2 separate regions of the Homo sapiens genome follow, and region 1 is linked to region 2. Evidence: fine-mapped expression QTL. Tissue or cell type: prefrontal cortex. Region 2 holds a variant in brackets; the other region holds the start of a gene. All regions are shown on one strand. Distances are between the middles of the regions.

Evidence for each region. PIP is the estimated chance that this variant, and not a neighbour inherited with it, causes the effect.
Region 1: AGBL3 starts here. The variant in region 2 is fine-mapped to the expression of AGBL3 in prefrontal cortex (BrainSeq, PIP 0.95).

The regions. Positions count from the first base shown.
Region 1 is chr7:134,985,478-134,988,163 of GRCh38, forward strand. It overlaps AGBL3 (AGBL carboxypeptidase 3), which reads left to right and starts at 1,031. Exons shown (of 17, transcript NM_178563.4): 1 at 1,031-1,224; 2 at 2,398-2,519. The coding sequence starts at 2,457. RefSeq lists enhancers at 933-1,232, 1,243-1,382, 1,463-1,722.
Region 2 is chr7:135,205,054-135,207,739 of GRCh38, forward strand. It overlaps WDR91 (WD repeat domain 91), which reads right to left. Exons shown (of 15, transcript NM_014149.4): 4 at 2,067-2,149; 5 at 875-1,005. MIR6509 (microRNA 6509) reads right to left here and starts at 2,025; the gene lies at 1,941-2,025. RefSeq lists a silencer at 1,857-2,016. The variant AAC/A (reference allele first, on the strand shown) is at 1,371.

The DNA.
Region 1 (2,686 bases), 220 kb before region 2:
AAGAGGTTGATCTAAGATATACTCTATTAATATTCTCTGGCCAAGGTCTAATCTGGAAGGTTCATACTTTTAAACTGCTGACCTCAAAAACACCTATTTTCAGATACTTACAAAATACAAAGAGATTATGTTAACCCATTTCCATGCTTAAGCCATAGTGCTTTGCCCTTTATTCTACTTTCAAACTTGCTACCATTTATTATCTCCATTTCTACAATATCACGAATCTCATGACATATAACGCTTTGTGAAAAGTGTTTATTTACATTCTTATATCATCAAAATCTAGACTTTTTTTCAGCTGTACTTGGAAAACTTTTCCAAATAGATTACCTTACCCTGTAGAGCTAAAGATGAGGGAAAAAATCAATATGGGATGTTCATGAATAACGTCTGTTAACTAAATGAGACTACATATAGTGATTTGCAGTCATCAGGAAAACAGTGTTAAATATGCTAGCTGACGATTGCTATAAAGAATCTCTGAGCTGATAATTTTGAGAATTCACCCTAGTTCATCTATGACTCTCCATTTAGTATTTAAGGAGAAAAGCCTCATTTTCCAGAATCGAATAAGCGAATTAATCGCACAATTGTGTAGAATGGAACTCAGTCTGTAAAAAATCAAGACCAACGTACTTTTTAATATTCTAACATCTCCAAGTAGTAGTTACAAGTATTGTACCCATGAAGTCCAGGTAATTAATTTGTTCAATGTCACACTGTTAAAAGTCAGGTGGGCTCCAAAGCACAGTCCTAACCAGCATGCTCTACTGCCTCCTCTGAGGCAACAGCCGAAGTGCAGACCACTGGGAATAAATAGCTGCCCGGTCTTCCCCACTCCTAAATTCTCCCGACAGACCCCAAAGCCTCTCTGAGAGCCTCTCTGACCGCCCTGCGGCCCACCCCGAGTTCCCGGCATCCTCTGGGATCCCTCTTCCTGGAGCCAAAACCTACGCAGGCTCCTTTCCTCCGAGCTGGTTGCTAGGTGATCTCCGAAGGCTGTCCGAAGTCTCGCGAGGGCGGACCCGTTGCCTGATGACGAGAGTTGGGAGTGTGGCTGGGGCTGCGGATCTCCAGCAGTGGCGTTACTTCTAGCGGCTGGATACCGGGTTCTCCGCGAGATCGCGAGATCCCGAGATATTCTCCCCGCACGGAAGCGACGACTGGCCTGGCCAGAGGACTCGCGTGGGAGCGAGGTGCCGGCCCCGACAGGACGGTGAGGTATGCAGAAGTAAGGCGGGGCGCCCCCTGCGGGAAGCGAGCGCGCCCCGGAAAATGAGCGCCTCCCCACACCAAGGTGTCCAGGAGTGAGTGCGGGAAGGAACTCGGCCGCCCGGAGTTGTGGCCTCATCGTGCTTCCCGCCAAAAACGCCTTGGTACTGTCGGGACGCGGCTAAGCGTGGACGCGCCCGCATCTGCCCCTCCTCCGCAGTGGTGGAAGACACCCGCGGAGCGCCGGTGGATAAGGGCCGTTTCCTGAGACCAGAGCTGTATCCGCAGCAGGTCAGCACTTCGTGCGCCCTGTGTGCACCTGTAAGGAATGGAATTTAGGCCAGTCGGATTTTCCAAATGTGGAGTTGTGATGCCCAGGCAGAAACTTCAGTTTCTTAGGACTGAAGGTGTCATCTATGAGACAGTCGGTTCCGTGGCATTGGCAGTGATTTGCCATAGAGCTTGGACTTAACTTATATGTAGTCCACGCTCCAAAACACGCTTCCTGTAGAGAGGGGCGTAAACTAATAGATTTGAAATTGTCGAGTCCTTTGGTCTCTCAAGAACGATGGGAACTTGACAAGAAATTTCGATTATTCCCTGGTCTTGATATTACCCACATGGGAAGATACTTGCATAGAATGGTAATGGTCATTACCAATACAACCTTCTGGTAGCTATTTAGATTTCTAAGAATAAGAATAATATAAATGAATATTAGAACAGACAGTATCTACAGAATAATAATCAAAATGTAAAGTCTTGTCACTTGAACTTTTGGTCAAGTGAAAATCAAGGAGAAAACTTAAAATTATATTGCTACATTTCAGTAAGTGACTATAATTTTTAAATTCATTATCTTTTAATGCCTCAGGATCATTCTGAACTTGCTGTGTAGTATTTAATTGTAAATATAAAATGTGAATGATTTGGCTGTATACTCTGGAAATTCCTTTTAATTAAATGATTTGCTTGATTTGTCTTATTGTGGTTGTTGTCTCGTATAGTCATGGAAAATTCCTTTAACTCTTTGAAATTGAAGGTTTTATTAGTTGTATTCTAATTAGTTTTTAGAGAAGACTGTTGTGACTGTTAAATACAATTGAATATATTTTTGAGTACTCATTTAATGTAGTAAACACCTACAGCTTGAAAAGAAAAGCTGTCATATAATTTCCTTAGAAATTGTTTTACAGCCTACCCGTATATTACAAGAAATCTCAAGTCAAACACTGGAAAAGATGTCAGAAGATTCAGAAAAGGAAGACTATTCAGACAGAACAATCAGTGATGAAGATGAATCGGTATGTTTTTCTCAACTTTATTTTACTTGGAGATAAAATTTGTATTATATAAATCCCCAATTAAAATATTATAAAATCAATTGGATATAAAAATCAATTGGATGTTTAAATTATTGTCATTGAAGTTGGGAAATAATTTGGCTGAAAAAGCTAAGCTATCACTGGGA
Region 2 (2,686 bases):
ATCGTGACTCACCAATCACTGTCTTCCTCACCTGTGTGTACCTCTGTTTCTTCAACCACTACTATTATTATCACCAGCTGGGGCTTCTGCTTTAACTGGCTGTTTCTGAAGGTCAAATACCTCTCTCTAATCTGCCTTCCTCTTTAAACCGTCAGAGAGGTGCATGCTTCTACTGAGGAATGCATCCAACCTGTGGTTACCAATCTTTCCATACATGAGATGCTCCTTCCAATGCACAAAACCTTCCCAAGACTTTACCACAGTGGTTGCGTTTTTATTTATCCTGACTACACATATCTGGATGTAGAGCTGGCAGAGCTGTGCAGTTCCCCACCTCTAGGCAGAGCCACAGGCTCGGAGGCTCAGAACTCCTAGAGGACTTCTGAGGCCATGGGGACCTTACTCATAAAGCTCTGAAGCAAGGCTGGACACGGTGGCTCACGCCTGTAATCCCAGCACTTTGGGAGGCCAAGGCAGGTGGATCACTTGATGTCAGGAGTTGGGACTAGCCTGGCCAATACGATGAAATCCCATCTCTACTAAAAATACAAAAAAAATTAGCCAGGCATGGTGGCATGCACTTGTAATCCCAGCTACTTGGGAGGCTGAGGCAGGAGAGTCTCTTGAACCCAGGAGGCAGAAGTTGCTTTGAGCCAAGATTGTGCCACGGCACTCTAGCCTGGGCGACAGAGCGAGACTCCATCTCTAAAAATAAAAATAAAGCTCTCAAGCAAGAGCAGTGTGTGCCAGGAGGCTCTTCCGCAATTCTCCTTCAGCAGGCACAGAGGACTGCAGGCAAGGCAAGATCAGAGGGAACTGTGGGGCTGAGAGCACAGAGGGCAAAGAAAAGGAAAGGGCCGTCACACACACTCACAGTTCCGAGTCCCCCAGGCGGTCCATGTTGGAGACATAAGGAGGCAATTTGTGTTGGACCAAGGCCTCTTCCTCTTCTGGCTGTTGCTCCTCTTTCTTCAGTCGGTGGATTTCAGCTTGCAATGCAAAAAGCTATACAGGGGTGGGACTGAGTTAGCCAATGATCTCACCTAACCTTCCCTCTGCGGAGGAAGATTTCTAGACACATCGCATCCAAGCCCACTGGTCTGAGTGCCACTCGCCTCAGCGTCAAGGGGCCCATCTCACTCTGCTCACTGCAGACTGGGAAAAGTGACTGCTGTCACTGGACAACAATGAGGTGAGAAAACCAAAAACCATTAGAAATCCAAAACCCATTTTCTTTTTAATCATTTGACTTGCTTCCTCCTAGATTCACTGAGAAAAATAGCTCCACCCAACCTGTTTTGCTTTTTAGAATCTACAAAATCAGGCTTTAGAACTCTCAAAGCCTGACTCTGGAATGGAAAAAAAAAAAA[AAC/A]CTGTTAATGAACTACAGCGTTTTTAACCTTTTGCCTGAAGAAAATTACATATACACACACCCCAAATCCCAAGAATCTTAAACCCCATAACCTAAACAGCCTATAATCTTCCTTTTCCTAACAATATCACCTAAGGAGATCTTAATTTCAGGAAAGAGAAATGTTCCTCAGGCAACATGTACAGGCAAATGTGGGTCCCCTGGCTCTATTGTTTTATCAAACTAGAGAAGCATATAGCTGAGTAGGAACAACTAAATTATATATGGGTTATAAACTATATATATGTGTGTGTGTGTATATATAGTTTATATATATACATATAGTTTACATATATATGTGTATATATATATACACACATATATAGCTATACGTGGAAAGACAAAACAGACACATGAAAACAGGTTAGTTATAAGGTGGCATGGATGCATATAGTCTTTTTCTCCTTAAAAGTTAATTACTGTTACTATATTGTTCATGCTACATATCTGACTTAAAATATGAATCTCGCCTCTGGTTTTCAGAGACTGTTACTCTCCAAATCCCCAATACTGACTTTCTGGTGACTCATTTCCATCTGAGAAATTAGGTAGTGGCAGTGGAAACCTGATTAATATAGTGTTCCACTGCCACTACCTAATTTCACACACAAAAAGCAGAAGTACTTCCTCAGGAGCAAGCCTGTTCAGAACAAACCTTCTGACGCAGAACTTCATTTTCTTCTTGAACCTGGTTAGTCCTCTGACACTCCGCATCAAAGTTCAGGATCACAGGGACTGGTGCACGAAGTTAAAGAATAAGCCAGCCCCTGAAATGTTTAAACGTCCTTCCCAAACCCTTGACACACCAGTAAAACACATGAGACACAGGGACACAGAGAACAGAGTATAGGAGCGGTGCTGTGGGCTCTTGCGGGCTTAATGAAATAGTCGCTCCCTACAGTCTTGTCTCTAAGACTTTCTCTAGGTCTGGCCTCATTTCATTCGGACAGATTCACAGACGCATGACCATCTGCCTGGCCAGCCCACAGAGGGGACATAAATCCAAACCTAAGCATTTTCTCTCAAATACCAGAAGCAAAGAGCTAGCATCCAGTGGACTTCACAGCCAGTCTGAGCTTTAGTGAGGTCACTACATTCAGCTAAAAGCAGCCCTGGAGGCCAGTGGCTCTGCAGTAATACAGCCAATGAGGCAGAAAAGACCAGTCAGTTGGCTTCGCCTCCCCAGGTTGAGCCTCTCCCTGGCAAAGGTTTGGACTGAGAAGAGAAAGCTTTCTGCAGATTGCGTGGCCACCCCAAGAACAACGACAGTCTATA